Linked DNA regions of Homo sapiens. The protein of the gene in region 1 interacts with the protein of each later gene in a pairwise test. Each region holds a gene or a part of one and is shown in the gene's direction. Other genes may lie near its edges.

Evidence for each region. Proteins that work in one complex are often made in the same cells at the same time.
Region 2: the proteins of BICD2 (region 1) and RAB6B interact in binary tests that used the Homo sapiens proteins (3 or more experiments, as listed by UniProt).
Region 3: the proteins of BICD2 (region 1) and ARHGAP45 interact in binary tests that used the Homo sapiens proteins (3 or more experiments, as listed by UniProt).

The regions. Positions count from the first base shown.
Region 1 is NC_000009.12:92,754,822-92,761,843, reverse strand, and holds part of BICD2 (protein bicaudal D homolog 2), read left to right. Parts: intron 1-7,022. UniProt on the Homo sapiens protein: Acts as an adapter protein linking the dynein motor complex to various cargos and converts dynein from a non-processive to a highly processive motor in the presence of dynactin.
Region 2 is NC_000003.12:133,823,721-133,829,890, reverse strand, and holds the end of RAB6B (ras-related protein Rab-6B), read left to right. Parts: intron 1-1,038; coding exon 1,039-1,103; 3' UTR 1,104-5,656; downstream 5,657-6,170. UniProt on the Homo sapiens protein: The small GTPases Rab are key regulators of intracellular membrane trafficking, from the formation of transport vesicles to their fusion with membranes. Rabs cycle between active GTP-bound and inactive GDP-bound states.
Region 3 is NC_000019.10:1,062,740-1,070,180, forward strand, and holds the start of ARHGAP45 (rho GTPase-activating protein 45 isoform 1 precursor), read left to right. Parts: upstream 1-4,427; 5' UTR 4,428-4,666; coding exon 4,667-4,756; exon of another isoform or gene 4,757-4,833; coding exon of another isoform or gene 4,834-4,935; intron 4,936-5,674; coding exon 5,675-6,005; intron 6,006-7,441. Other genes in the region: phospholipid-transporting ATPase ABCA7, read left to right, coding at 805-939, 1,021-1,124, 1,422-1,514, 2,192-2,432, 2,531-2,686. UniProt on the Homo sapiens protein: Contains a GTPase activator for the Rho-type GTPases (RhoGAP) domain that would be able to negatively regulate the actin cytoskeleton as well as cell spreading.

The DNA.
Region 1 (7,022 bases):
TGCTAGTGATTTCTTGAGCCTGACTCAGTTAAGACCATATCTGTCCCCGTTCCCACTGTGCCCTTTCCCTTCCTCTCCCTGGAATGGTGGGGAAGAGAATTAGATGGGCTTTGGTCAGCAACCTGGTGTTCCTGGTCCTGCGTGGCCGTGAGACACTTTGTTCTGTGTTCTTAGCTGTAGCTTTAAGAGGACAGGTGTGCTGAGGTGGCAGCTCCTGCCTTCAGGGCACAGGCAGGGACTGTAGCTAGGTGGGCTAAGGCTAGGTGCCCATGTGGTCCTCATGGTCAGGGGAGGGTAATGGGGGAGGTCTGAGAACAGTCTTGACTCCACCTGAGCTCAGGCTCAGAGAGGAGGTCTGGACACCCTCACTGCCTTGGTGTGCCACCTTGGTGTCATAGTGTCAAGCTCTGGAGCACCATTGTCCTTGTCTGAGAGGTGCACGTGGGTGGAATTGGGTGTTGGACTGGGCACAGCACCCAACACGCAGCAAGTGCTTCGTAGGTCTTCTGCGGACTGAATCTCATGCCTCACTCAGGTCTCTGTCTCCTTGCTGCTGCACCTGCAGCTTCTCCCCGTTCTTATCCTTGTCCCTGCTCAGTCTCAAGTGGCTTCCATTGCCACCTCCCAAGGGCTGCCCTAAGCATTGTCTCAGGCCCCTACAGCCTGGCTTGGGACTGCCCTACCTCTCCTGTGCCCACATTCACCCTTTGTCTTAGAAGTCCCACCTGCCCTTCAAGCTTGGGTGTCTCTAAAATTCCCCTGCCTGCTGCCTTCTGGACTTGCTGAGCCCTGTTCCCAGCACCTGGGCAGCTGCAGGAAGTGGGGGCAATAGGGTGATTGGCAGAGGACCCTCCAGGAGGTTCCTCTGCAGAGTTACTGGGGGTGAGGCCCAGCCTCTTTGATTGTTTGCTTCCAGAGCAGGAAAAGTCCTGGTCTTGGTTAAAGCAAGTGTGGGATTCTCCCATTCGTCTGATAACCCCTGAGAACATTGTTGTGTCCATTTCTGAACAGAAGGCTGTTGGGAGCAAGGAGGCTCTGGGAGACCCAAGGGCCTTTCAGGGGGCTGGGTGGTGGCAGTGGTCTGCTGTTGGTATGAGGAAGCCTGGCTTGGGTGGGAGCTGGGGCCCTGTGAATACCTGAAGCACAGATGGGTCTGACAGTTGGGGAGAGGCAGCTATAGGCATCCAAAGATGATGACCATGTGGCTACACTGTTGTCACTAATTGTTGGGCAATTCTCTCCCCGCTGGGCCTCTCTTTCCCCACTTTTAGAATATGGGGCAGGGGGTCATGAAGGAATCTTTAGGGACCCTTACACTTTTAAAAATGTCTGAAACTCCCACATCGAGCCCTGGTGCTGTTTCTTCCTGTAGGGCCTGGCGACTGGGCACTTGTGTATCTCAATCATCCTGGGACCTGGCCAGGGAATCTGCCCAGCCCTAGGCATGCGGATGGTGTGCTCCAGGCCAGCCCTGCCAGCATGTGGAGGCGTGGACCTGGCCACCCTCCATGGGATTCAAGGCAGGCACAGCTGTGATGGAGCAGCTCGTCTTTGGGGATGCCAAGCGAGCATGCTTTGTGGCTTAGCAGGTGGATCCAGAGGAAGGCCAGGCCCAGTGCTGGGAGCCCCTGGGCCCCTGGGGGTGCCTGGCACCACCTGAGCAGGACCGACTGTATATGATGTCTGTCCCTGTGAACTCCATACTGACTCCACAGGGGGAGTCTGGGCCCTGCCTGGTCTCCCAGGAGCTTGCGGCCCTGGATGAGCCGCTGCCTGTCTGGGCCGTGATAGGTTAATGATGATGCCTGTTACCTTGGCCCAGTGCTCTGTGAGCCCCCAAGGTCAGGGAGTGGTGTCCCTGTGCCCTTGTGTCTGAGCATCCGGCCCAGGTCCATATAGGATTCCTGCTAGGTCTCCCCTGTCACTTAGGGACCACAGTCCCTTCCTTTGAGGGAGGAGATCAGTTTCTTCTTTGTCAGTTTTGGGCATCCCCCAGTCAGTCAGACCTGCTTCCCCACATAGGTGGACCAGATGAAACTGTTACACACATCGGGGGTAAGAAAGATTTGGTTTCTTCTCAGACAGTACACCAGCTGTTTGAGGTGGTGGTGGCTGGTGGCCAGGGCTGGCCAGGACTATGCAGGCTTTGACAGGTAAAGCATTGGCCTTAGACCCTGTGTTGTCCAGTGTTCAGAGTGTGGCCTCTGAAGCCGAACTCTGGAGCAGGAGAGGGCCCAATGTGGCTGCCTAGCTGCCTCCTTGGGCTCAAACCCTGCTGTCCCAAGCTGGGCTCTGCTCTGCTGTGGGAGGTGGATGGAGAGATGGGGACTGAGTGGCAGGCAGGCTCCCCTTGCCACCCTCAGAGCATTGCAGGCCAGGGTTAGGGTTAGGAGGAGGTCACTGGGGGCCCAGCTTCTTTTTTAGAAGCTACTGTGTTTTAAAAAATCATACATTCACTTTAAGAACAGCAGAAAGTGGAGAGAACAGTGTCAATAGGACCTGTGTAGATGGCGCAGGACAAATGTGGGGAGCACTGGGTGTTTCTCTCTGCCAGCTCTTCTTCCCTTGTGAGTGTGTGATGTGTACAAGACACCATCAAACACAGGGGAAAGGCTTTGTGCATCTGTAATAGTTGTTTTTTGTTAAAGTTAGTTTGTTGCTACTCTGAGATACATAAAAGCAGGTTTAATTCAAGTAGATAAAGACAGGAAGGTTTCTGTGGATCCAGAGGTTCTGTGGTACTTCTAACTTATACTGTTGTGTTACTATATGAAATAATTGTCATGGTTTGCTTTTTATAGTTGGCTTTTTACTTTTTAATTTATTATTATTATTATTTATTTATTTTGGTAGAGTCAGGGTCTCACTGTGTTGCCCAGGCTGCTCTTGAACTCCTGGGCTTGAGCGATCCTCCCGCCTTGGCCTGCAAAGTGTTGGGATTAGAGATGTGAGCTACCACGCCTGATCTATAGTTTGCTTTTTTTTTTTTGAGACGGAGTTTCGCTTTTGTTGCCCAGGCTGGAGTGCAATGGCGCGATCTTGGCTCACCACAACCTCCGCCTCCCAGGTTCCAGCGATTCTCCTGCCTCAGCCTCCCTAGTAGCTGGGATTATAGGCATGTGCCACCATGCCCGGCTAATTTTTTTTGTATTTTTAGTAGAGATGGGGTTTCTCCATGTTGGTCAGGCTGGTCTCGAACTCCTGACCTCAGGTGATCCGCCTGCCTTGGCCTCCCAAAGTGCTGGGATTACAGGCATGAGCCACCACGCCCAGCCTTTTTTTTTTTTTTTTTGAGACGGAGTCTTGTTATGTTGCCCAGGCTGGAGTACAGTAGCTCGATCTTGGCTCACTGTAACCTCTGCTTCCCGAGTTCAAGTGATTCTCATGCCTCAGCCTCCTGAGTAGCTGGGATTACAGGTGCGCGCCACCACACCTGGCTAATTTTTGTATTTTTAGTAGAGACGAGGTTTCTCCATGTTAGCCAGGCTGGTCTCGAACTCCTGACCTCGGGTGATCTGCCTGCCTCAGCCTCCCAAAGTGCTGGGATTACAGGCGTGAGCCACTGCGCCTGGCTGCTTTACTCATTATTTACTTATTTATTTATTTATTCATATTATTATTATTATTATTATTATTATTTGAGACAGAGTCTAGCTCTGTTGCCCAGCGTGGAGTGCAGTGGCACGATCTCGACTCACTGCAAACTCTGCCTTCCAGGTTCAAGCAATTCTCCTGCCTCAGCCTCCCGAGTAGCTGGGATTACAGGAGCCCACCACCACGCCCGGCTAATTTTTGTATTTTTAGTAGAGATGAGGTTTCACCATGTTGGTCAGACTGGTCTCAAACTGTTGACCTCAGATGATCCACTCGCCTCAGCCTCCCAAAGTGCTGGGATTACAGGCGTGAGCCACCGCGCCCAGCCTTTACTCATTTTTTAAAGCCACCTTCTTTGTTGGATGTTTCCACATAATCAAAGGTGGAGAGAGTAATAGAGTGAGTCCATGTATGCTCCTGCCCTGCACCTGCAGTTTGCAGCTGTGGCCGGTCTTGTTTCTACCGCAGTTCATCCTGTGTAGCTGTGTCTGTAAGTATATCAGTTGTTTTGCTAAGAAAATAGAATCTTTTCTTTTTTTTTTTGAGATGGAGTCTCACTCTGTCACCCAGGCTGGAGTACAATGGCGCGATCTCGGCTTACTGCAAGCTCCGCCTCCTGGGTTCACACCATTCTCCTGCCTCAGCTCCCCCCCGCCCCCCCGCAGTAGCTGGGACTATAGGCGCCTGCCACCATGCCCAGCTAATAGAAAATAGAATCTTTTCTTACAAAACTTAACCATTGTTGAACTTTCACACCTAAGAAACTAACAAAAATTCTTTAGTGTCATCTGTTGTCCAGTCAGTGTTTGGATTTCCCCAGTTTGGCTCATAAATTTCATTTTACAGTTACTTTGTTTCTTCAGAAGCCAAGCAGGATCTGCAGGTTGCATTTGGTTGAAGGCCTTCTCAATTTTTTTTTTTTTTTTTTTTTTTTTTTGGAGACAGTCTCGTTCTGTCGCCCAGGCTGGAGTGCAGTGGCGTGATCTTGGCTCACTGCAATCTCTGCCTCCTGTGTTCAAGCAACTCTCCTACCTCAGCCTCCAAAGTAGCTGGGACCATAGGTGCACACTGCCACACCTGGCTAATTTTTTGTATTTTAGTAGAGGCGGGGTTTCACCATGTTGCCCGGGCTGGTCTTGAATTCCTGAGTTCAGGCAATCAGTCTGCCTCGGCCCAGCAAGGTGCTAGGATTACAGACCTTGTCATTTTAAAGACAGCGCCATGTGTGGCCTGTCCTGTCCCCTTTCATACTGCACTGGCATTAGCCCTGGCTACTCTATTTTTATGCTGTGGAGGGTGCCGGTAGGCGGAGATTCCCACTTTATCTGCCCCTGCCAGACACCTTACTCTTGTCTTTCTCTTTTATTTCCTTTTTTTTTTTTTGAGACGGAGTCTCACTCTGTTGCCCAGGCTGTAGTGCAGTGGCGCGATGTCTGCTCACTGCAACCTCTGCCTCCCGGGTTCAAGCGATTCTCCTGCCTGAGCCTCCTGAGTAGCTGGGATTACAGGCGTGCACCACCACGTCTGGCTAACTTTTGTATTTTTAGTAGAGACAGGGTTTCATCCTGTTAGGCAGGTCTTGAACTCCTGACCTCATGATCTGCCTGCCTCGGCCTCCCAAAGTGCTGGGATTACAGGCGTGAGCCACTGTGCCTGGCCTCTCTTTTCTTTTTTAAAATATTAGCCAGGGGCCGGGCGCAGTGGCTCACGCCTGTAATCCCAGCACTTTGGGAGGCTGAGGCAGGCGGATCACGAGGTCAGCAGATCGAGACCATCCTGGCTAACACGGTGAAACCCCGTCTCTACTAAAAATACAAAAAATTAGCCGGGCTTGGTGGCAGGCACCTGTAGTCCCAGCTACTTGGGAGGCTGAGGCAGGAGAATGGCATGAACCCGGGAGGCGGAGCTTGCAGTGAGCCGAGATCGTGCCACTGCACTCCAGCCTGGGCAACAGAGCGAGACTCCGTCTCAGACAAAAAAAAAAAAAAAGTAGCCAGGGTGCCTCCTTCAGCTGATGCATCATGGCTTGGCTCTTGCATTGCTGCATTGTCATCACCTATTCTGGTTCATCTGTCGCCCCAGCCTTTACTGTGGAGCTCTGCCCACCTGAGGTGATGTTGTCATCTAGTGGGTGTAGATGCCAAGCCCTTCTAAACCAGAAGGGAGGAACTAGTATTGTCACTGTCCTACCATTGAGGGTGCTGAGGTCATAGTGAGGACCACTCATACTCTTACTAGCATGGCAGTGGACTCAGCCATTCTTGGCTTGACTTCTGTGACCTGGAGCCAGTCTCTCCCCTCTCTGGGCCTCAGTTTCCTTGTTTTAGGCCAGTGCATTCCTGACGCCCTTGGAGGTGGATCAATTTCTCCCTCTAGTGACAGCATCATGGCGGGCTCAGGCCCAGGACGCAGCTGCTTTGCAGGCATGTGTTGCCTGCTGCCTGGGCTCCCCATCTGCTTTGCTCTGCCCTTCTTCCTCACACCCATGTTCCCTCAGTACCACCCTCACAACATGCTGGGGTGTAAGGGCTGGTTGATGACAAGCATGTCCATAAGCCTAGGGGATTCCTTGGGTGTCCTAAAATGTGACCTAAGATAATTATCGGGGAACATGCCCCGATATTCACGTAAGTTCTTTTCATTTTCCTTAAGTGTCGGCCAGCTTGAGAAATAAAGGGACAGAGTACAAAAGAGAGAAATTTTAAAGCTGGGCATCCGGGGGAGACATCACATGTCGGTAGGTTCCGTGATGCCCCACAAGCCGCAAAAACCAGCAAGTTTTTATTAGGGAGTTTCAAAAGGGGAGGGAGTGTGCGAATAGGTGTGGGTCACAGACATCAAGTACTTTACAAGGTAATAGAATATCATGAGGCAAGTGGAGGCAGGGCAAGATCACAGGACCACAGGACCGAGGCGAAATTAAAATTGCTAATGAAGTTTCGGGCACCATTGTTATTGATAACATCTTATCAGGAGACAGGGTTTTGAGATCAACTGGTCTGACCAAAATTTATTAGGCGGGAATTTCCTCTTCCTAATAAGCCTGGGAGCGCTATGGGAAACTGGAGTCTATCTCACCTCTGCAATCTCGACCATAAGAGACAGGTATGCCCCAGGGGGGCCAGTTCAGAGACCTACCCCTAGGTGTGCATTCTCTTTCTCAGGGACGTTCCATGCTGAGAAAAAGAATTCAGTGATATTTCTCCCATTTGCTTTTGAAAGAAGAGAAATATGGCTCTGTTCTGCCCGGCTCACCAGTGGTCAGAGTTTAAGGTTATCTCTCTTGTTCCCTGAACAATTGCTGTTATCCTGTTCTTTTTTTCAAGGTGCCCACATTTCATATTGCTCAAACACACATGCTGTACAATTTGTGCAGTTAATGCAATTATTACAGGGTCCTGAGGTGACATACATCCTTCTCAGCTGAC
Region 2 (6,170 bases), on another chromosome or scaffold:
GAAAAGTCAGAGATAAAGTCATACTCAAAATGTATGCCATGGCCGCATGGTTGTTAGAGGTGGCCAAAAAGTTGGCTCTGAGCATCCTCACAGCCAAGGCAAGGAAAGAGAATGTGAACTTCAGGAGAAGCATGGCTTTTCATAGTACTTAAAACAAAAGAACCTCTCCTGTTGTCCTCAAATAGGAGCCACAAAAGCATCCTTAGGATGCCAGCAAGAAGTTCCAAAACAGTGTTTCTTATACCACCACACCCCACACACCCCTGTCTTAAGGCAATCCCTGTCCAGGAAGAGCAATTCTGTGAGGTATCAAAGGGCCTGATCCTCAGCTATAATTAGGTCTGGTTTGATGCAAGGCTAAAATCTCACAGTGTTGGTTTTGAGCCCGATGAGGAAGGCAGAGGGCCAGCCTGGCTGTGCATTTGGAACCAGTCCCTGTGGTGGTTCTGATAAGTGCTTCTTTAGCCCACAGCCCCCGGGGGCACCAGTGGAAAGGGCTGGCGAGGGGGCTGTGCTTAGGCCCCATGGATGTGGCTTCTTACAGTAACCATCCTCAGGATCTAAGTGATGTGTTCTGACTAAAGCTTGAAGGGTTTGCTCCTGCTGCCAATTAGGCAAGGCCCACATACCCCTGTGCTTTGAGATGTGAACCCAGCAGGCTCTTCATCTCCATTGCACTTTGAGTGGGGCTGACAGGTAACTGGGCTGAGGCCAGGGCTGGGAGCTGGCATTTGAGCACTGGTCGAGGGAAGGCTTCTGGGAAAGGGACTCCCTGGCCTTGGTATAGATGGTGATCCCACGGCCCAGGCAAGACAGGCTTTGCTTGGGTGGACAGGCGCTGGGGGAAGTGGACGGGTGAAGGGAAGAGGAGGCAAGGTGGAGTTGGTATTGCATCCTTCCTAGCCCAGCCAAACCAAGAGCCAAGTCCCTAGGTGTTTGCAGAGAAACAGAGCAGTAGCCAAAGGGTACAGTGCACAGGGCTAAGTGGGGTGGCAGCTTGTCCAGGAGAGTCATCTTCCTTAGCCCGTCCCCCTGCAGTGATCGACATCAAGCTGGACAAACCCCAGGAGCCCCCGGCCAGCGAGGGCGGCTGCTCCTGCTAATGCAGAGCCGACCTGTGGCTTCCCATGACACTCCTTGCTTGTTGTGTTGCTTCCTATTGGCTAGCTTCCTAAGGGGGGAGGGAACCGAGTTATCAAGATGGGAGGATTTTTCTTTTCTCTCTGTCTTTAGGAGTAGGGTGGGATGGGGAGGGAGGCTGGGCATCAGGGATCACATCACTCTTAACGGCTGTTACTTAAACAACTATTTTTTGGTTTGGTTGTAATATATTGTACTTTATTAAGATTGCCAAAAACTGTTAAAATTTAAAAAAAATTTAAATCATGTGTATACAATTTTTTGCCAGATAAAAATGTAGTCATTTTTATTTGAAAGATGTGCTTTTTGTTTTTGTATATTTGTAAACTTATAGAGAACCTTTTCCACACACCTCCTCCTTCCTGTTCTCTTTGAACCATTCATCACCTCTGCCTTCCTCCTATCCCCAGCCCAATAAATTAAAACAATTAACTGAGCAAATTAATTAGGCTTCAGTCTGGGGCCATCTGGCCCCACTCTCTAGGCCCTACTCCAGTTAAATCAAACATTGGTTGAACACATCAGCCTCTGAAAAGGTAGCTCTGACTCTTGTCTTTCCATGGCCAGAGTGGGTCGTCAACCTCGTGTGGAGCTGAGACCAAGGTCTGTGGGCTCTAGGCAGCCCGGCAGCAGCCCCCAGAGGAACTGCTCCCACCTCTCCTTCTCTTTCCCTGAAAAGCCTTGAAGGGGGTTGAGGGTACAGGCAACCTTGTGTTCTCTGTGCCCTCAGGGACTGGCAGAGCAAGAGGCCATCAGAAGGACGAGGTGCTGTTGGCAATTGCAGCTGCGTGGTGCGTGGTTTATAGACTGGGGTGCCATGTGTACTTCTGAAAATATTTTAACCAGCCCACCCAGCAGTCAGTACACATGCCTGGGCCAAGTCTAAGAAACTCAGTGTGTGATGTTGGGCAGTGTGCCATCCTGAAGCCTTCCTCCTGGATGTCAGGGAAGCTGGACCACCTGGAGTTGATCCTCTGTGATGGGGAGGCGGGGGGGGGGGGGGGTGTTGTCTGCAGAACCACCACCTTGAAAGATCCATGTTCTTAGAGCCTCAGCTGCTAATATTGTTGAGTGCTTTCTGGAAAAGCTGATTTGTTGCTATGTTTTCACCCCAGTGGCATGGCGCAGTTGAAGTCTTTGTGGACATATCTTTGTGGCTACTGTGGCTGCGCTGTGGTCACCTGAGGATGTGGTTCAGGTGGGGTCTCCAGAAGGCTGCTTGCCCCCAGAGAGCCATCTCTTCCATTTTTGATTCATTCCTGAGAATGGCTTAGTCCTGAGAATCTGCAAAGTCTCTGAAGAGAACTCTCTCTTCCCACTAAGTGATATAACCTACTTGGCCAGCATTCCAAATAGACTCAGACTCACTGCCCTGAGCCTGCACAGAGCCAGGTGCAATGGGCAGTGAGTCTGGCCAAAATGTAAACCCCACCCTCCCTGCTGTCATTGGCTCTCCCTCCAGGCTGCTGCTGGGCATGTCATAGATGGGATGAATGACCATCTGGGGTATGGTGGGCTGAACTCCACAAGGTCGTTGGAATGAATTTTGAAACTTCTCAGAAATTAATCTGAAATGGCAGGCAGTAAGTGCAGCAGAATCTGGCAGGACTGATATTTGTGCAGTGGGCCTGCCACACACCCTCTGCCTAGGAGGCTGTATGCCAGAGCTCATCTCTAGCAAGGAATTTATCTTCAGGTGAAGAAGAGAGGAAGCAGGATCCCACTGAGCACCTCTTGCAGAAGGCAAGGACCAATGTTTGAACGTGTTTCAGATGTCATGTGTTTAGTTTTTATATGTGTGTACATAATTATATATAGAGATAGACTTGTGTATACACCTTCCACAAACACATCCTCACGGAGATACATGTGCTCAATGTATATTCTTGTTTCTCCTGCTCTCAAGTTGGAACTTGCATTGTGATAAGTTTTGGAAATTCAAAAGTACTGCAACGTGTTGAAATAAGAAATACTTAATATTGTCAAATAACTTGTGATTGTCTTGCCATCAATAAAATAATGCATAGTTGTGTTAAACTACAGGCAAACATAGCCCACGGGAATATCTCCACCATTTCTCTATGTACTTTATATGCACGGGTGTGCATGCCTGTGTGGGCCAGTGTCCCCCCACCATGGGCACACCCCCAAGTGGTGCTTGTTGGAAGAGTGCTTACTTACCTCGAGAGAATTTACAGGAGTCCACATGACAGTGTCCTGCCTGGTTGGCAGCGGGGGCCATCACCTGTGGCCTCTGAGACCGCCCCATTTACAGGAATCTGCACTGGGTCTCAGTGAATGAACGTATGGTAGATTTTTATTTTCTTGGCACTAAAGATTAGCTTTTTTAAAAAAACATCCCATAAAACAGTAGAAACTCAGTTCCCTTCTCAGGGGCACACACATCCAAGGCACCGTGGACTGTGTTTCCATCCTGGCCTAGAGGAGCAGTAAAAGATAGCATTTGGTTTGACATGGCCTTAGTGAGTCCTGCCTTTCCTAGCATGCACACAACATCCTCTCTTTGAGTTTGGGTTCTCCCCAGCCCCTTGGCCTCTGAGGCTGAGGGTGGCTTCCTCCCATCCTCCCATCTCAGTGGTTCCATGGCGCTCCCTTCGGCACGTGCGGTTTCCGCCCCTCCCTTCCTGGGGTGTGGAAAGGCAGCCAGACCTCTTTTTCAGAAGTTGTTGGTTCCCTGATTTTTGTCTTGAGCAGGCACCATCCCTGTCCCCTTGCTTGCAGGTAGAATTGGCACAGAGTTAAGGTTCCATAATAAACTGTTAGGTGCTCTTGAAGAAGATGTCATGGCATTGCCTCAGCACCCCAGCAAGAGCATTGCATCTTTGCTGAATCCAGATGGGTTAGCAGAGGGCAAATTGGAGGATTCCTTTGAGGAAATGTTCTCAATTGAGCAATTCAGTCCCTCTCCCCAAAGACTAGACGTGACCTGGCAGATTAGCAGGATCCTCTTGGCCTTCTTTTTTGGGGATGGTGGGAGTGAAGGGGGTGAATCTTAAAAGCTTATCAACAAAGCTCCTGTTCTGCAGGCATCAGGAAAGTTGAGTGTAAGATGGAAAAAGCAAACAGCCTATTTACAAGTGGAAACACATTGGTTCTGATCACTCCTAACTTGCTGGGTGATCATACATACATCAACATGAAGGTGTGACATCAGAATCATGAGCACCATGGCTGCAGTTGTGTGATCCAAGGCTAGTTGGCTTGGTAGCTGTTGGCAGCAGTTTCCCTTGGTCAGAGGCCTCCTTGCTATCTATCGCTGCTCTCTTCTTGTCATCCTTAAACATTCAGTCATGTTCCCAGGTCTGAGGGGAGCAATGGCCAGACCAGTTTCAGTATCTCTGGCAACAGAAACAAGGATTGAAATGGTGGTAGTTAAGAGTGCAGACACATCTGGGGTGCAACGTCTGCATCATCCTGGTGGCTAGCCAGTGCGGGGAGGCCCTGCCCTGGGATACCAGTTGTGACAATAAAGGGATGGCCCTCCTGGCTTCAGCATCCTGCAGGTAGAGCAGCCTCATTCCTTCACAAGATGGAAGGCAGGTGAGGATGTCAGGATGAGATGGGACCAGGTAGCCGAGGACAGTGAGGCATGTCTGAGCCACTTGAGGGGCAGCTGAACAGAAGGATGTCTGTGTGCATCAACCGAGCAGATTGTGCGCACACTCGTTTCCGAACTGCCTCTCCCCAAAGAATGTGAGGCATTGTCACCTTGTTACAGCTATGTGAAGCAGAGCTGTCACAACTTTTCCTGTCTACAGGCAGGAAAACCAGGATGGAGAAGGGCAACTTGCTTATTAAGATCACCCAGCAAGTTAGGAGTGATCAGAACCAGTGAAGTTTCCATTTTTCATCCATTGCTGCCCTGTGTGTGAACAAATGTGACTCCATATTTATTACACAGCAAGGACTGCTGTGTGTGGGTGTGTTCCTCAGACCATCTCTACTCTTTTTGGTTAGGACACTAGGTTCTTCCCAGCATATGAGTGAGAATATTGGTGGTATTTTGGGCTCCTCTACTGCACAAGGGCCAGTCCCCAAGTCTACTCTGATTGATTGTCATGGGCACCCACACAGATCAGGACACCCTTTGAATTTTTGTTTGACATGAACTATTTAGGTGTTCCAAAACCTTGGGATCTCAATGTGCAAACTCCTTGGACTCCAGACCCCTGTCTGGTTGGCACTCCCAGCAGTGTGTGGTTTCATCAGGAAATCCTTGCAGCAGGGGTTTAGATGGTTCCTTCAGGAGGTGGGAAGCCTCCATAGCATTGAAGGCCAGCCTGCATCTCGCGGTGTGTGTCCACTTCTCCCCTCACTTTCCCCTCACCCATCCCTTTAAAGTGATTGGCTGTGAGGAGCACAGAGGGTGGCAATTCCATCTGTTATGGGCTCAGAAGACATAGCCGCCATGTTGATTTCACATTAAACTGTGTAAAATGTGGAAAAGACTCAGCATGTTGGTCAAACAATAAACTGTCCTAATTCTCAAAACAAAGCTTCTTGTCTGTGTTTAAGTGGTGCAGTCATAAATGGGGGGGTTCAAAAACAGTTCCTGAAGTGTGTGCTCCACAGAGTCCCTTTTGTCATGCCTGGGTGGTATGTCCACTACCTAAAGCCCTTTGCTGCTTTGCTTCTTCCTCCTACTGGTGGAGTTGGGCTGTCCACCAACTCCGAAGGGGTAAAGATGGGACACACTCATGAGAGTAAATCCACACGCATTCCCCTAATCTCCATTCTGCTGAAAGGCTGATGGGAAGGGAGCCTCCAGGCAGAACTGAGTCAGGGGTACGATATATTCCTTCATCCCCACTCTGCTTGCCATGGCTAGGGGATTAGGAAGGGGGGAGAGGGTACAGGGACTGGATCTCTCATGCTTCTGGTGATTTTCAGAAAGCCATTTAAAGGCAAGAACTTAAGGTGAACTATAATGACCTTTGACAACATCTAGCTGCCATATTCCATCCCCAGCCCCACACCACACCAGTTAGGAACATCCCTGAGTGGCCCCT
Region 3 (7,441 bases), on another chromosome or scaffold:
CTTTGCCCTGGCCCGCCCCACCCTCACACTGTCCCACCCCATGCCCTTTCTGGCCCTGCCTCATACCCATGTTGGCTCCACCCACACCATGGCCCTGCTCCATACCCATCCCAGCTCCACCCATACCAAGGCCCCACCCCATACTCATGCTGGCTCCACCCACACCATGGCCCCGCCCCATACTCATGCTGGCTCCACCCACACCATGGCCCCGCCCCATACTCATGCTGGCTCCACCCACACCATGGCCCCGCCCCATACTCATGCTGGCTCCACCCACACCATGGCCCCACCCCATACTCATGCTGTCTCCACCCACACCATGGCCCTGCCCCATACTCATGCTGGCTCTACCCACACCATGGCCCCGCCGCATACTCATGCTGGCTCCACCAGTGTGGCCCCGCCCCATACTCATGCTGGCTCCACCCACACCATGGCCCCGCCCCATACTCATGCTGGCTCCACCAGTGTGGCCCCGCCCCATACTCATGCTGTCTCCACCCACACCATGGCCCCGCCCCATACTCATGCTGGCTCCACCCACACTATGGCCCTGCCCCACACCCATCCCAGCTCCACCCACACCATGGCCCCGCCCCATACTCATGCTGGCTCCACCCACACCATGGCCCCGCCCCATACTCATGCTGCCCCCACCACACTATGTCCCATTCTCACATTTGCCCTGCCCCATGCCCATTATGCCCCTGCTCCACACTCAATGCTGGCCCCGCCACACTGTGGCCCTGCCCCATACTCATCAATATGAGTCCCCATGCCTACTCTGGCCCCACCCCACAGACCGCTGGCTCGGGCCTGGCGCGTCTGGGACTCTCATGGTACGCAGACCGGCCTGCAGGCACCTACAGCGGAGGGAACAAACGCAAGCTGGCGACGGCCCTGGCGCTGGTTGGGGACCCAGCCGTGGTGTTTCTGGTGCGTGGGAGCGGTGCCTGGGTGGGGTGGGGCCTGCGACGGAGGCGGGGCCTTGCTTATGGGATCTTCCGTGCTCCCCAGGACGAGCCGACCACAGGCATGGACCCCAGCGCGCGGCGCTTCCTTTGGAACAGCCTTTTGGCCGTGGTGCGGGAGGGCCGTTCAGTGATGCTCACCTCCCATAGGTGGGCCGGGCTCTGATGCCCTGGGCTGTGGTTAAGGTGATCCAGGCCTGGAGAGAGAGCCCCAAAGCACAAGGCCACAGGGGATGGGGGGTCCTGGCCCTAGTGGGGCGAGGGCGCCAGGCCCCGGGGTGTAAGGACACACAGAGGTGGGACGCGGCGCCGGGATCAGAACGGTCTGGGGAAGAGTGGGGAGATGTCCACACCAGAAGGGTGGCCCAGGCCGGGGGAAGCAGGCAGTGTGGCGCCAGGCACAGGTGGCCCCGGCCTCACGGAGCTCGTGGTGCCGGGTCCCGACAGCATGGAGGAGTGTGAAGCGCTCTGCTCGCGCCTGGCCATCATGGTGAATGGGCGGTTCCGCTGCCTGGGCAGCCCGCAACATCTCAAGGGCAGGTGAGCCGGCGCGGCCTCCAGGCAGGTGTGGGGTGAGGGTGGGCACGTAGGTAGGCTCAGGGGAGAGGCCAGACGTAGAGCCGGGTGAGGAAAGTTTGGCTCCAACTGGAGAGATGGCCAAGGCTTTAGATTGTCCTGCAGGGGTGACTGAGGGGGCGAGACAGGCTGGGGTGTGCTGGGGGCGCAGGACCAGGAGGCGTGAGCCGGGGGCTCTGGGTGGATTTAGAAGACACAATCAGGTGTGCGTTGGAGTAGGTGCAGCCTGGAGAGGTGAGGGTGGATTGATGGGTGGAGTTAGGGGAGGGCCTGGTTAGTGGGCGGGGCCATAGGAAAGTGGGGCGGGGGTATTTATTGTGTGGGCGGGGGTAGAGTGCAAGGGCGAAAGAGGAGTGTCCGAAAAAGGAGTCAAGTGGGGTGATAGCTTCGAGAGCAACCTGGGCAACCTAGGGAGACCCCATCTCTATAAAAAATTTAAAAATTAGCTGGACATGGTGGTGTGTGCCTGTGGTCTCAGCTACGCGGGCGGGGGGTGGCGGGGGACTGAGACGGGAGGACCACTTGATCGCTAGGGTAGTACAAGTATGGGGCGGGGCCAGAGAGTATTAGGGGCTGGAGGGTGAGCTGAGGTGGGACCTGGGAAAGGCCCGATCCGGTAGCCCTGGCCCCACTCACTGCAGATTCGCGGCGGGTCACACACTGACCCTGCGGGTGCCCGCCGCAAGGTCCCAGCCGGCAGCGGCCTTCGTGGCGGCCGAGTTCCCTGGGGCGGAGCTGCGCGAGGCACATGGAGGCCGCCTGCGCTTCCAGCTGCCGCCGGGAGGGCGCTGCGCCCTGGCGCGCGTCTTTGGAGAGCTGGCGGTGCACGGCGCAGAGCACGGCGTGGAGGACTTTTCCGTGAGCCAGACGATGCTGGAGGAGGTGATCACGGCGCCGGGGTCGGGCTGGGGGAGGCAGGCTGGGGGCCAGGCCCGTGGGCTGACCGTCCCTCTTGTCCCCTCTGGGCTGCCCACCGCTAGGTATTCTTGTACTTCTCCAAGGACCAGGGGAAGGACGAGGACACCGAAGAGCAGAAGGAGGCAGGAGTGGGAGTGGACCCCGCGCCAGGCCTGCAGCACCCCAAACGCGTCAGCCAGTTCCTCGATGACCCTAGCACTGCCGAGACTGTGCTCTGAGCCTCCCTCCCCTGCGGGGCCGCGGGGAGGCCCTGGGAATGGCAAGGGCAAGGTAGAGTGCCTAGGAGCCCTGGACTCAGGCTGGCAGAGGGGCTGGTGCCCTGGAGAAAATAAAGAGAAGGCTGGAGAGAAGCCGTGGTGGTGAAACCGTGTGCATGTGTGTCCTTGAGCCAGGCTGCACACATGTCCACACAGCTGCCTGCACATGCGTCTGGATATGGCTGGCCCCTTGCAAGCTGAGTGTGCACATACGGGCCAAGTGGCGATTCATAGGACACAGGTGTGAGCGTGCCTACAGCTGACCGGATCCCAGCTGTAAATGCCTCTGTGGCCAGCCCAGGAGTTGGGGATGTGAGTGCGGGCCTCATAAGGGCCTGGTCACACCGTCCCTGTCCCCACGTCCCTGCGTGCCTATGTGGGGCTGGCGCCTAAGGGCGGTACCTGTAAGTGCCTGGCCATAAAGTGGGGATGAGGTCAGGACTCAGGAATGTCCTGGGAAGCTTACAGGAGCCCGGTGTCCCGGAGCACAGGCCAGGGCCGGGCCAGAAGCCCATCCGACATCCAGCTGACCCTCACCCTCTGACCCCAGCCCTCAGCGCCATGAGTCGGGGGCAAAGAGTTCTCAAGGGTCTGCTGGGCTGGGTTTGCACTTGGACCTGGGCCTGGAGAGCCAGACTTGGAGCAAGGGGCTGTGGCCTTCATGTCCTGTGCCCCAGAGATCTGCCCCTCCCACCCGAGGTAGGTGGGAATGGGGTTTGGGAAAGGAAAGAGGTTGGGGTTTTGGGATTGGGGGTGGGGTTCTGGAAGGGGACAGCAGGGAGACTTGGGGAGGGGGGAGAGAGTTCACACTGCGGGGTGGGGGTTGGGGGAAGGTAGGAGGCTGGGATCTGTATGCCTGCAGATGCCCCAGCTCTTGGCCAATGCCGCCTCAGGCTGTTATCAGCAACGGGTGCCTGCGTCCTGCTGCCCAGCACGTCCGGTGGTCCAGAGTCACTGGAATGCAGCTTGGGAGGCGGGGCTGGGGACCTTAGCTAAGGGCAGGTCTGGGGCAACATGATATGGCCCACAGGGCTGCTGAGAGGTAACCAGGTGTCCTCAGCATATTCTGCCGATGGTGGGGTCCACACCACACTTTGGGGACCCCTGTGCAGGCAGCCCAGGACCAGGTGGACGTGGGGACCCAGACGGACGTGGGGACCCAGACGGACAGGGCCCGGTAACCTGGATTGTTCTGACTTCCTGGACGTCTTTGCCCCCAGGGTTTCGGTTCTGGGCCTCAGTTTCCCCACCTGTCCTCGACCTGACCCACTTCACGGGGCTGCAGGGCGGGTGATGGGGGGGACCCTACTCTGCCCGGCCCTGCTGGGGCCCGGCCACACCCTAGGGTCTGCAGGAGAGGCGGTGGAGCGGGCTTGCCTTCAGGGAAAAGGGGGCTGCAGGGGCGCAGCTTCGGCCTGTGCGTGTGTCTGGGGTCTGAGGGCGAGGCTCCAGGGGCTTGGTGGCGTCTGAGCGCGTGTGGAGGTCCGGGTCTCTGCGTGTCATCGTGCACGTGTCTGTGCACGCCCACTCGCGTCCGGGAGTGAGAGTCAGCGCCCTGCAGTCGGCCGCCCCGTGCCCGCCAGCGTCAGGCAGGGGCTCCCGGTCCCACCCCGCGAGCGGCGCGGCTCCGAGCTCCCGAAGGCGGAAGCGGGGGGCGCGGCCCGGGGCTGGGGGCGGGGCCTGCGACCTCACCTTCGCGCCCACTCCGCAGAGCCGCAGGCTGAGGCCGGGAAGGGTCGGGGGCGAGGCCGCGTCGCCGCCTCCCCGAAGCCTTTTCCTGTTGGGGGGAGGGCCCGCCAGTGACGGCCGGGCCTGTCACGTGGGCCTGACAGCTGGGGAGGGGGTGGCCGGCGACAATGTGGTCCCGAAGCGGCCAGCGCCGGGAGCTGCAGCGCTGAGACCCCCAGCCCGCCCCCTCGGGCTCCCGGCCGGGGCCCCATCATGTTCTCCAGGAAGAAACGAGAGCTCATGAAAACCCCTTCCATCTCGAAAAAGAACCGCGCGGGAAGCCCCAGCCCGCAGCCCTCGGGGGTGAGTGGAGCCCGGGTGAGACCCGGAGCTGACGCCGGGCCGCAGGGGGACAGGGACCCGCCCTGTGCTCGGGGCTCATGCTGGGGCGGCGGCTGGGGGCTCGTGCCAGCTACAGCCCCTACCGGGCGGGACGGCAGGGGCCACAGCAGAGAGGCCGGGACCCCGGCATTCAGCTCACGGTAGGGACCCTGGGAGTGGTGGCCGCCTCCCTCCACTCCATCCAGGGCTGGCCGCGGGGCCCAGGGAGCAGGAAGGGAGGGTGCCGGGTTGGGACGATGTTGTGTTTGGGCCGCTGCAGGTTGGGGGCTTAGGCAATCTGGGGGCTCTAGGGGCCGTTGAGATGGGAGGGCTGTGGCCTGGCCATTGGGCTGAAGGTTGACCGGGCAGCAGATCCTCTAATGGGATCCACCAGGTTCAGAGGTTGGGGAGTGTCCCCAGGCCTGGGGTGTCTACAAAGCTGGGGGGGGGGTCTACAGAGCTTGGGGGTCCGGGATGTCTACAAGGCCTGGGGCTGCCCATAGGCTCTGGGGTTCCATGGACCTTTAGGGGACAGACAGAGTCAGAAGTGTGTTCACTTAAAGCACCTGCGTTGTAGGAGCCTGAGGGGGGCTTGAAGGGCTGAGGACCCTCCCCACCCCCACCAGGAAGTGGGGACCCCCCTCCCGCGCCTCCCCGCAGGCCCCGCCCCGGCTGTGGTTTGGGCAAGGACCGTTGTTTGTGAAAGCTCTAGGGAAGAGGATGTTGGGTAACAGGTGGGGGGGTACACTACCAAATCTCGGCCCTGTGACCTCTGGCCTTTGACCCCTGTGGGGTCAGGGTGATGGTGGCCCTCCACAGCCCCACTTCATTTCTGGGGAAACTGAGGCCGTGTCCAGGCCGGAAAATCCCTTTAACGAGCTCCCCTCGGACCTGCCCAAGGAGCTGCCCAGGAAGGATGGGGCTGACGCGGTGTTCCCCGGACCAAGCCTGGAGCCGCCCGCTGGGTCCTCCGGCGTCAAGGCCACAGGGACCCTCAAGCGGCCCACCAGCCTGAGCCGCCACGCCAGCGCGGCTGGCTTCCCCCTGTCGGGTGCTGCCTCCTGGACACTGGGCCGGAGCCACCGGAGCCCACTGACAGCCGCCAGCCCGGGCGAGCTGCCCACCGAGGGTGCCGGCCCGGACGTCGTCGAGGACATCTCCCATCTGCTGGCGGACGTGGCCCGCTTCGCTGAGGGCCTTGAGAAACTTAAGGAGTGTGTGTTGCGTGACGGTGAGAGCCACGGGGACACCGAGGCCTGGGTGGAAGACAGAGCCAGACCCAAGGGAGGATGGAGGGAGGGACTTGGGGAGGCTCAGAAGGGAGGGAGGCTCAGATGGCAGGGAGGGCTGTGTGGAAGAGGCCATGACAGCTAAGGCTCTGAGGGATGTGTAGGAGTTTGGTGGGGGAGTCCCTGAGCGTACACTGGCTCAAGAGGGTGCCCACTTTATTTTTTTTAAAGGATCTGATGGCAATTAGGAGGGAAAGGCAGAGGAAATGTCCCATGCACAGGCTCAGAAACACGGAAACAGAGAATGCATTTGGGGGCCAAGGTGTGGGGTGCCGCTGGTGTAGGATGAAGGCATGACAACGCCAGGCAGAAGGGCAATGGGGAGCCATAGAAGGTGTTAGAGCACAGGACAGATGGGGGCAGATCTGTGTCTTGGAATGAAGCAAACTGGGGGTTGGCTGAGGTCTGGGTGGAGAGAGATTCAGGAGGCATGGCGAGGGGCAGGATGGGGTCATCAGGCGGCGGAGGTGCTGGGACCCAGCGGCCTGCAGGCCGGCAGTTCCGTTTTCTCCTCCACGCGGCCGCTGACAGCCCTGCTTCCTGCCGAGTTATTTTCATCTGCTTCCTGTTTGTCCCTGGCAGCCCAGGCGGGCACCTCATGTGCTGCCTTCAGCCCCCGGCTCCTCCCAGAAACCACAGTGCCAGGGTCATGCCAGGCGCTCTGATCTGCTCCCAGCAGCCGCCCATTTTACAGATGACGAAACTAAGTCTCTAGTGAGGCCCTGACCCCTGGCTCACCCAGCCAGGGCAGGGCAGAGCCAGGACTGGACCTCAAGTGGTGGAGTGGCCTCTGCACCTTCAGGGCACTAGTTGGGGAAGGCCCGGTCCCCACTGGGAGGAGTGGGAGCCCCCGGGTTATCTGGTCCCAGGGGCGGGGGCTAGGCTGCTTTCCTGGGGAAACCCTAATCTCGGTTCCTTTCCGATCCTGGCGCTTCCTTGGAGGCCTGGCCTGGGCGGGGCTCAGCTCCCAGGCTCCTGCAGGAGGTCTGAACTGGGCCAGCCAGGGTGGGGCACTTTTTTTTTTTTTTTTTTGATACAGGGTCTTGCTCTGTTGCCCAGGCTGGAGTCCAGTGGTGTGATTGAGGCTCACTGTTACCTTGAACTCCTGGGCTCAAGCCATCCTCCTACCTCTGCCTCCCGAGTACCTGAGACTACAGGCATGAGCCACTGCACCTGATTTATTTTATTTTATTTATTTTATTTGAGATGGTGAGATGGAGTCTCACTCTGTCGCCCAGGCTGGAGTGCAGTGGCGCGATCTCGGCTCATTGCAACCTTCCTCTCTCGGGTTCAAGTGATTCTTCTGCCTCAGGCTCCCGAGTAGCTAGGACTACAGGTGCGTGCCACCACACCTGGCTAATTTTTGTATTTTTAGTAG